2 separate regions of the Homo sapiens genome follow, and region 1 is linked to region 2. Evidence: fine-mapped expression QTL. A gene starts in region 2. The other region holds a variant in brackets. All regions are shown on one strand. Distances are from middle to middle.

Region 1 (5,386 bases), 84 kb after region 2:
AGGGGCTTCCAACAACACATACAGCCAGATTAATGAAGCCAGTAGAAAGGAAGCGCCTTGTTTCACATAATTTAAGCAAAATATCTATAATTGACTGCACTGAATTGGGTGCATGGTCAGATCTGCGTTATGTGTACACTCTTTGTATATGAAAGGTTGGGGGCAGGGGTGTGTATGTGGCCCACCTAGACCATGTAGAAGAAGTGTTGCCCAAGAGGAATTCCCTAAAAGAAACTTCTACCAGAAAAAGAGAAAGTAGATGACATCCAAATCAACTATACATCCCCAAATCTCCACTGAAGGAAATCAAATGATACACATTTATAAATGCTATGGATTCAGATTAAAAGTATAAATAATAATTTTATTAATCTTATTCTGTGTACTTTGCATCAATTATGCCTGCAAATTTTTCTTTACATCTCTTCCTGAGAGTGTTCTAACTGATCTATTATTTCATGTAGTTCTTTAAGCACAGAAGTATACAGATGATTAAAACTTTAGGGCCGGGAGTGGTGGCTCACGCCTGTAATCCCAGCACTTTGGGAGGCTGAGGCGGGTGGATCACCTGAGGTCAGGAGTTTGAGACCAGCCTGACCAACATGGAGAAACCCATTCTCTACTAAAAATATAAAAATTAGCCGGGTGTGGTAGTGTGCACCTGTACTCCCAGCTACTTGGAAGGCTGAGGCAGGAGAATTGCTTGAACCTGGAGGCGGAGTTTGCAGTGAGCCAAGATCATGCCATTGCACTCCAGCCTGGGTGACAGAGCGAGACTCCATCTCAAAAACAAAAACAAAAGCAAAAACAAACAAACAAACAAACAAACCTTTAGCCTGGATCGTCATCCTTGAGGTTATACTAAGAGAAACATTTTGGGTAATGCCTACTAGACATTCAGGAATCATTGTGCAAGCTTTGACCTTCATCTGTCTGGTCAATGAAGTCACACCACTATGTCAAGAGCATTAGACCTGCTCTTTCTAAGTTATTGAGATGGGCTTTTAGTGTGCATTTTGAATTTTCAAGAAGATTTTTATTTTTCACTTAGCTTTTATCATTATTGTATATTTTTAAATATAGCTACTAAGAACTTGCCCTAGCCACAGAGTGTACTCTAAGAAGCAGAAGATGCTTAATGTATTAATGTTATTATAAGGGGAACAAAGAGTTTCATAGTCAAGTGTTTGGAACACTAGGTTAAATACGCTTCTTTTTCTTTAACTTCTTATTATACAGTTACAGAAAAGCTAACAGTAACACAAAAGAACACCCACACATTAACCACTAAAGTTCAGCATTTTGCCATCTTCATTTATATATATGTATATAGTTGTTGTTGCTGGTGAATAACTTGAAAATCAGTTGCAGACTCATGATAACATTACACTTCGCCTCCAAATACTTGAGCATGCATCTCCTAAGACATTCTTACATAACCATAGAAGCATTATAACACTTAAGAAAACTAACAATAATTTTCCATAAGGGGATAATACCATGTAATGCCCAGTCCATGTTCAAATTTTCCCTTTTTTTCTCAATACTACTTGTATAGATAACTTTTTCTTTTGAACTAAAATCTAATTAGAGTTCACACATTGCATTTGATTGTTATGTCTGTTTAGTGCCTTTTATTTTAAAACAGTCTTCCTGAACTTTTTAAAAAGAGTACTGTGTTTTTTATGAGACCAAGCCAGTTGTCTTGTATTAATAGAATATTCCACATTCTGGATTTTTCTGAATGTCTTCCCTTGACATCTTCTCATTTATTCTTCCCTTCTCAACCAGGTTTCTTTACAGCAGAAACTCTCAGAGCCTTTAAAGTTCAATGGGCAAAACTACTCTGCAAATGGACACCTTCTAGCAGCCTCTGCTATCTTCACAATAACCTTCCACACTCAATGAAGCACACACATGCCAGAAACACCAGCCCTAGCAGAGGATCAGATGGAAATACGCATGCCTTACCCCTTGAGTTTCATGTGAAAGGACTTCAATTTGACTCCCACTCCTGGATGCTCTCCTCTGTTGGGGCTACAGGGGCCCCATTGAAAATGAAACAACAACAACTAAAAAACAAAAACCAAAACCATCACATCTGGGCTCTAAACTAATGTCTAGGGGGAAATTGAGGCTCAGAGATTAAATTCTCTTGCAAGGTAAAGCCCAAAGTTATCAAAATCTGAAGGGTCACAGTTCGAAAATCAAAATTTTCTGCACTTCTACGAAAAAAATCAGAGCTTTTCCTGTTTCTGATTCTGCATAGCCTCAGCTGGGGGTGCTCCTAAAGCCTTAAGCAGCTGCAGCTACAGTCTATCTCTGAAGCTGTATTTGTTCATTTTCCATTTTCTGAGGAGCCTCACTCTTTTAAAGTGTTAAAAGTCTCAGCAGAAGCCAGAACATTATTGTAGCACTAGCCTCTCACCTACCCACCAAAGTTAGGAAACAAACCATTCTCTGTCCCTGGAGCAATTGCCAAATAAAGATGTACTTCTAGAACCCAAAAACTCTAGCATAGGCTTAGAATCTGAGAGGAGAGACTCTGTGTCTCAACTTCCTCAGGGTGGCTGTCAGTCAGTCAGTGAAGGCAATCCAAACCTATATTCTGTGCAGGTAAACTATTTGGGAGAAATCTTTTCATAAGAGGTTAATTTGGGCATTGTGCTGAACAAATCTGGGGGACGGGTGGGCAGAAGGAGAGCCATTCATAGACACGGGCAATAGTCATTCTGCCTTCCAACAAGTTTAGAAATTTACAAAGGTGGAGGCCCCAGTCTCCAAGTGTCGTTCACGTCTTACCAATTAAAATTCTCTTCATCGCCGTTTCCATTCTGAGCCCTTGTACTTAATTGAGCAAGATCTCTATCTAGTGACATGGAGCTCTCTTGGGAGCATGCTTTCAATCCTGTGCCTCAGTGGCTGTTTTCAGTGGCAGGCTAAACAATCTGCCTTGAGCTACACTTTCTCCAGAGCTCTCTTGACTCCATGGATGATGTGGAGTGACTTTGAGCATGTGGACGTACTACAGGAATCCAAGGTTTGTCCTTCCACAGTTCCCTCTCTGGCCTAGAAGGCAGAATGAAATCTGAAGCAGTGCTGCCTCCCCAACCCCACAGAGACAATTTCCAGTTAGGCACACG[C/T]GGAGCTCAGCCGCCTTACATTTTAAATGCAGCTGGGTATAGATTTAGGTGACGAAGTGGGGAAGGGTTCTCTTTAAGAAAAAGATACAAAACAATACATTTAAAAATATATGTAAAAGCGAATATTTAATTAGAAAGAATGATCACAAAAAATACAAATATTTTAAAATGGCCATAACAGCAAACATTAATTGCCAGGCATACCTCTATAATACTTTTTGTCTACAATCTTGTCTACTTACTCTCTAGTCATCCCTTCACACAATAATTTTATGATAATATTTTATATAAATGGAACAGATAGATAATTCAATCTTTCCTACAGTATTAATCTTTTTTTAATTGATAGGAAGCATAAAACAAACTTAGTTTGTAGACTCGGTACAGGTTTGTGTACTTTAGACATAGGAGTTCTGATAAATTCTATTTCACGTGATTCCCATCAAAAAAGACGTGGTGGATTTATAGTTTACATGATGTCATTATTAAGCACATTTCATGTGTACTGTCAATGAGAACAGAATCCCATACTTACAACATTACCGAACATCTGATGATAGAATTTTCTACAGCCTAATTTCTGGCTCCATCCATTTCAAATCTGGCTTCTGCTCTAGGACTCACATACTTCCATGTCGGGCACTGTCCCACCTTCACATTTTGAGAGAACCCTCGCCCTCACCCTCATTTGGGTATACAGGGAGAGTCACCACAGTGGGCAACTGGAGAATTCTTGGAAGCTATAAACCATACAACTATATCCCACTAAAACCAAACTAAATGTATTTCCAACTCAGACGCCCCTTAGCCAGGTCCCCAAAATGTCTGAGTGACAGAAGAAAAACAATGGCCTTGATCCACAGAAGTTAAATTACTTTGCTTTTACACATTTTACAAAAACATTATTATCATTATTCCTCCCTGTCTTCTTTCTCCTTTCTGAACAATTCAGTCCTAAAGCCAGTAGGTGGGACAGAGCGGGGAAGACACACATGCTGGCTAGGGGGATGAGAAGGAGGAGTGACCAAGGTGGCTCACAGAGGAGTGTCAGAGCCCTAGTGGGATAGATGGCAACATGGTGTAGTGACATAGCACGGCCAGCTCAAGCCCAGTGGGAAGGGAATCAAGGGGCAGCCTACAGAGGCTCAAAGTCCAGTCTCTGTGATGTGCCTTCATTACCTGAATCTAATCAGGAGGAAACATCAGATGAACTCAAACTGAGGGATATTCTACAAAATGAATGGCCTGTAATCTTCAAAAATGCAAATATCATAAATGTTAAAGAAAGACTAAGGAGATATCTCAGACTGAAGAAAGCTAGAGACATGAAAACTAAACATACAATCTTGATTCTGAACTGAATTTGAGGATTAGATGGTAGTGTGTCAGTGTTAACTTCCTGATTTGGATGGTTGTATTGTGGTTATGTAGAAGAATGTCCAGATTTGGAGAAAATACATACTAAAGCATTAGGGACTGACGGGGCATCAGATTGGTACTATACTCTCAAATGGGCGTTTGGGAATAGAGTTTCCCTGTATTTTTCTGTATTTTTGTGTTTGTTACCAAATTATATATAATTATATATGTGAGGGGTAGGGGTGAGAGGGCGAGAGCATATGACCATGTGAACACATTACTAGTGTCCCTCAGGACCTCAGGATCTTGGAAGGCCCCATGCAAATATGGGAACCTGAAGCTTCAGTTTCATCAATATCACTACCTCTAACTGCAGCAAACCTGACTCTACCCACTACTGTCTGAAAGGCCAAAGTCCTTAAAGACATAATTTAGACCTTGTCTTAGTTATACCTGCTTTCTTAGGTCTTTGTGGCCTCCCTATCTCTGCTAACACTCAGTGTAGCAGAATGAATATGTTCTGAATGTTGTTGAAGGTCAAGGAGCAGCAGCTTGCACCCGAGGCCCACGTCACCTAAAGCTCTCTGGGGTTTGCCTTTGCTGGGCCCACATAGCTCTGTTGTGTGTATTTGCTAAGCCTGGCTTGGTACAAATGGCCAGTGTTTTGCTTCAGGCTCAATGTAGGTTCGGTGGTATTTGCTGATCAGACTCTCTTCTCCACACCCCCACTTACGTCAGCTGTGTATCATTTGCTTAATGCTCAGGACTTGGAGTCCCACCAGGAAGATAAAAATCAGCAGTGAACAAGAAGTGTTTCAGCTAGTCAAATCTCCAACCTTCACTCACTTCTCCTGGTATGCTCAGCTTAGCTCCTTTCTTCTTTC
Region 2 (5,386 bases):
CTTACTGGATAATACATATTCAATAAATAGCTAATGATCTTCCAGCTTCCAAGGCTTACCAGTGTTAACAAAAAAATGAGTGACTGAGGGAAGTGTCTCAATCAGTAGATGTTTATTGAGCCACACTTTGAGCACACGCCTGGGGAAAAACAAGCCACAGAAGCATCTGTGACCCACACTTTCCAAAGAGGGCTTTCGGAACTCAGTATTCTAGAGGAGAGCATGCAGGAGTGAAAAATGGCGGGAGGGAAGTAGGCAGTGAGGCAAATGGTTACATTCTCTTGAGTACCTTTTCTGATAGCATAGAATTACTGATTAGCAAAAATGTTGTACGTTCACAAAAGAGTAATCAAAACAATGAGGAAACCTGAAATTATGAGAACTAGCTGAAGAAACTGGGGACTAGGAAAAATAAATAAATGGTGGCGAGGGAGTTGGGGGAAGGACTGTTGAAAGGGAGAGATTATCCATGTAAAAGTGAAGAAAAATGCACTAATGAATGGTTAAAAATAGAGGAAGATTAACTTCAACTTAAAATAGGAACTTTTAATGAGACCTATATAAATGTGGAATGAGGTACTCAATGGAAGTGTTTCCCATCACTGGAGATGAAAAAGCACAGGCTGGACAATCCACTCAGCAGGAATGTTTTAGGATAAACTGAATGTCAGATGGGAAGTAGGACTAGAAGCCTCTTAGATTCTTCCAGCACAACGTCTCTAAGGCTCTAAAATATCTGTCTTGCTCCAAATCACTGCAGCACCTGCTCCTATTGACACTGCCAAGGGGAGAAAGAAGAAAAAGATGTATTCTTGTAAGCCTGTCATCAGAGTACATGTCCTGTGGAAACAAGGCTGTAGAGAGTAAGCACAGTTTATGGAATCAGACACAAAATTAAATATAACTTTTATGAATTTAAATGTCAGTCAATATTGTCACTATGGTAGAAAATACGTTCTACATTCCAAATTAACTCAAAACAAATTTGTTTTTATGAGAGAGCCCACTTGTATTACCTTCCGTGCTGTATTATTATTTCATGTATGCTTGGTTTTGCTTCCCTGAAATCTAAACTCATGTAAACTGAGACTATTGTTTAGGGGTTTTTTTGTTTTTGTTTTTTTTTTGAGATGGAGTTTTGCTCTTGTTGCCCAGGCGGAGTGCAAAGGTGCGATCTCAGCTCACTGCAACCTCCACCTCCTGGGTTCAAGTGATTCTCCTGCCTCAGCCTCCCTAGTAGCTGGGATTACAGGCGCCCGCCACCACGCCCAGTATTTTGCGTATTTTTCGTAGAGACGGGGTTTCACCATGCTGGCCAGGCTGGTCTCGAACCCCTAACCTTCGGTGATCCGCCCGTCTCGGCTTCCCAAAGTGCTGGGATTACAGGCGTGAGCCACCGCGCCCAACACTGTTTACGTTTTTGCATGCTCCCGCAGATCTTTATCATGCTGCTTGAGTAACAATTCTGCTACACTAACAGATAAACTAACTGCAGACAGAGCATTTAGTGAGTTACGGCACAGACTCTTCAATTTTCAGTCGTGCTCTGACTGGCTCCCTGTGTAAACTCAGGCCAGTCATTTAACCTCTCTAAGCCTGTTTTCCTATCTGCAATATGGTGAAAGTGAGGATTATAGAAAATATTCCATATAAAAGTACGTGGCACGCAGCAGATGCTCAGTAAATGCTTAGTATAACGCTCAGCACCTAAGTGCCATGTGAGTATTAAATAAACAAATCTGTTCCTTACTACAATTATCTTAGGCAAAAAAAAACCTGCCAGATATTAGTATTCAGTTGACTTAAGTAAGTAGTATAACTCCTCTTTTAACTGTCAGAATATTAAAACTACTAGTGTGATGTGCAAATTATATACCCGAAACTAGATACAGAAATTGGAATTTGGCTTTGGGACAGAAATCTGCTTCTTCCAGAACTCTCCAAAGGAATTCAACAGTCAAAAGAGACCGGTTTTTATTCTGCAGCAAAACAATGATATTCTGAACCTACGTCAACTAACTGAACATGTCACACAGCCCATTTCCCCCTCCAGTTTCGCTTATCTCCTTTGCTCTCTGAAGGCAAGGAACAGCTATGCTTTCCCCTGCCTACAGCCTGAAACTTCTTACTAGGCCCCGCTCCTCGCCCCATGGGAGCACAGTAAATCCTGACTGCACGGGGTAAGAGAAGCAATAAGATGAGACAGGCTAGAGATTTCCCTGGGAAGGTATTCGGGGGGGTCTAAGGCATTCACGGCGCACCTGAGGCGGTCCACCCAGAGGCCCCACAAGGCACCGCCCTATTCAACTTAAGTGACAGCCGCGCCGCCACCTCATCGCCGCCCAGTTCACGCTCTCGCCGAACACTCAGCCACGCTTGCGCGGCCCAAAATGAACAGCCCCGGCCCCGATCCTTTCTTTCTCTAAGTACCATTTCAATCGCCTTTAGGATCCCTTGTGCAAAACCGACAGAAATCCAAACCCACCTGGAGCAGATGCTCCTCTTCTACAAACGCCGAGGCTGCAATGAGAGCGCATGCGCCTTTCCCAGGACTCATTCACGTGACTGGAAGTGGCTGGGTTCTGATTTGCTCGGTATTTGATTAAAAGGTCTTAACGTGGGTAAAAGCGGGAATTTCTCTGTTGCGCATGTGCGCGCTCTCCGCCTGATAGGAGTTGTAGTTCTGCGGGTGAAGCTCGGCGTTACTATCAAGCAACCAAACTGCAAGCTTTGGGAGTTGTTCGCTGTCCCTGCCCTGCTCTGCTAGGGAGAGAACGCCAGAGGGAGGCGGCTGGCCCGGCGGCAGGCTCTCAGAACCGCTACCGGCGATGCTACTGCTGTGGGTGTCGGTGGTCGCAGCCTTGGCGCTGGCGGTACTGGCCCCCGGAGCAGGGGAGCAGAGGCGGAGAGCAGCCAAAGCGCCCAATGTGGTGCTGGTCGTGAGCGACTCCTTCGTAAGTACCGCGAGGCAGGGGAGGGGCGCCCCGCTGGGGATCGGCGACCTCACCGCCGCCGCCTGTGCTGCAGGCTTTGGGGAGCAGAACCTGAGACATTTTCAAACACCTTTTACCCCGATGCAAAGAAAGAAATACATTTTATGTGAGGCCCCGTGTACTCACACGTACACCACATACCTATGCAAACATGTAAAACAATAGTGAAACACTGAAAACATCTTTGCAGATCTTTTTTTTTTAATACTGACCTCGATTCGCTAAATTATTTTACCACGACTAATGAACTTTCAGTCCATACCCCCGTTTGGTTTAATTGTGTGGTAAAATAACATTCTGCATCTCCATAAAAGCGTGTTAGCTTTCCAAAAGTCATTTTCCAGTTCACCTCAAGTTTGCAGGAATTCATGTTTGGGTGAGAAGTGAAGAAAGTTTATTTTTATTACCCAGGTCTGTGATAATCCTGTTAGTGCTGATTCAAATGGAATCGTTGGTATAACTTGATTCACTCCCCCGTATTCCAGAGAAATTGTGTGTATGTGTGTGTGTTGGTAATGTGGCTGAATCCCAAACTTAAACAGTTTTTGAAACTTTCCCAAGCCAAAGGTGCTACTGTCAACCTTACGCGATGCTTTTAGGATGATCCATGTTTTAAAAAGTGCTGCTTAGACAATTGTTTGGTTATTAATTGTAATATTAGTTTATTATCACTCGGTGTTACTGTGGTCACACAGATGTTGGTGTTAAGCATATCTGGCACTAAAGAGTGTTTGTAATCATATGTTGTATTTCCTTTCTCGTAGATTCCTGATGATTAAAATTACATAGTCTGGATGTGCCCATGGGATTTTTTGAAAATATTACTTAAAGTTATCTTTGTGATTTAAACTTAGAGAATGGGCAGTACTGGAAATTGACTAGATGGCATTTTATTACAGAGTGCTCTTGTAATCAAAGGCAAATGAAGGAAGCAGGATTGTGCAGAGGAGAAGCTGAATTTTGTTGCCATCTTATGAATGACAGTTCTCAAACTAGTATGGTGCTTCAGAGCTGCTTTCCAATAGGAGTGAGGAGAACAGACCTTTCCACCTGCATGTTGGATGGCCACTGGTTGTGGGCTGCTCCTAGAATGGGGCATGGTGTTGGGCAAAGCAGCTGTCTTCAGCAGAGGCAATTGTTCATTCCTAAAAGGGAATCCGAATGTGGATCACAACATCCCAGAAACTTCCAAAGATGACTGAGATATATAGGTTTGTTATTTTTTTTAGTGTAGTATGAATGCATAGATTTTTCTATATTTGTGCTTAAATTTTTTGCATTCACGGCCGGGCGCGGTGGCTCACGCCTGTAATCCCAGCACTTTGGGAGGCCGAGGTGGGCGGATCACGAGGTCAAGAGATCAAGACCATCCTGGCTAACACAGTGAAACCCCGTCTCTACTAAAAATACAAAAAAATTAGCCGGGCGTGGTTTCGGGCGCCTGTAGTCCCAGCTACTCGGGAGGCTGAAGCAGGAGAATGGCGTGAACCTGGGAGGCGGAGCTTGCAGTGACCTGATATCGCACCACTGCACTCCAGCCTGGGCGACGGAGCGAGAGTCCGTCTCGAAAAAAAAATAAAAATAAAAATAAAAAAATTTTTAAAAAATAAAAAATAAAAAAAATTTTTGCATTCACATACTTGTTAATATTCAAACTGTCCTATCTTTGGCCAGTGGAAGCCCCTTCAGGTGGTTCTGAGTCCTTTTGACCCATCCCCATTAGTATTTGACAGCTTGCTTTAACAGAGTTCCATGTCCACAATACATATTTCCTGTCCCATCTTGTATTTAGAGACCACAGTCTGAGTGTTAGGGTGTTCATTGCATCTAGACCTTTCCAGTGGACAAATCTAGAAAGTATATAATATTTTAGAATGAGAAAAATAAATTGTGAGATCATACTGATACTTTCCATTCAAATTTAAGATTACAAGTTTATTCTTTGATTTTTATACTTATATCTTTTTTGTTTTATGCCAAATATTTTGGTCTAAATGCATTAATGCAATTACTTATTTGCTTTATCCAAACATATAATATGTATATATCAATGTGTTTGAAAATAAGACTGTAATATTACTAGAAATAATGCTAGTCCTGAGTGCAGCTTACAGTTTCTTTGAAGTTTTTGTTTTAGGTATATTCAACTATATAGTAAAAATGTTGGTCTTTAAACTTAAAATAATTCCTCTCTCTATGATTATACCAGTTTGGTATGCTGTTAGATTCTTGACACTGTGATTTATCATTTCTAAAACTCTGCAGGCTAAGATAGAGCAGTTAAGCTGGATAATAATTGTAGGAAGAAAATAGCAAATTGGTTTTACTTTCAGGATAACAACGCAAGAGCTTTGTAGATCAACTCCCAAGAAAACAAGCAAACCAAATGAAAA

The links. PIP is the estimated chance that this variant, and not a neighbour inherited with it, causes the effect. A credible set is the group of variants that fine-mapping cannot tell apart.
Region 1: its variant is the best candidate, but not a certain one, in a credible set for the expression of ARSK in lung (GTEx, PIP 0.83).

Annotation. Positions count from the first base shown.
Region 1 is chr5:95,636,770-95,642,155 of GRCh38, forward strand. No RefSeq gene overlaps it. Among named protein-coding and RNA genes, the nearest start is that of RFESD, 7.3 kb to the right of the region's middle. The variant C/T (reference allele first, on the strand shown) is at 3,144.
Region 2 is chr5:95,552,451-95,557,836 of GRCh38, forward strand. It overlaps ARSK (arylsulfatase family member K), which reads left to right and starts at 2,651. Exons shown (of 8, transcript NM_198150.3): 1 at 2,651-2,954. The coding sequence starts at 2,829. SKIC3 (SKI3 subunit of superkiller complex) reads right to left here and starts at 2,527. Exons shown (of 43, transcript NM_014639.4): 1 at 2,486-2,527.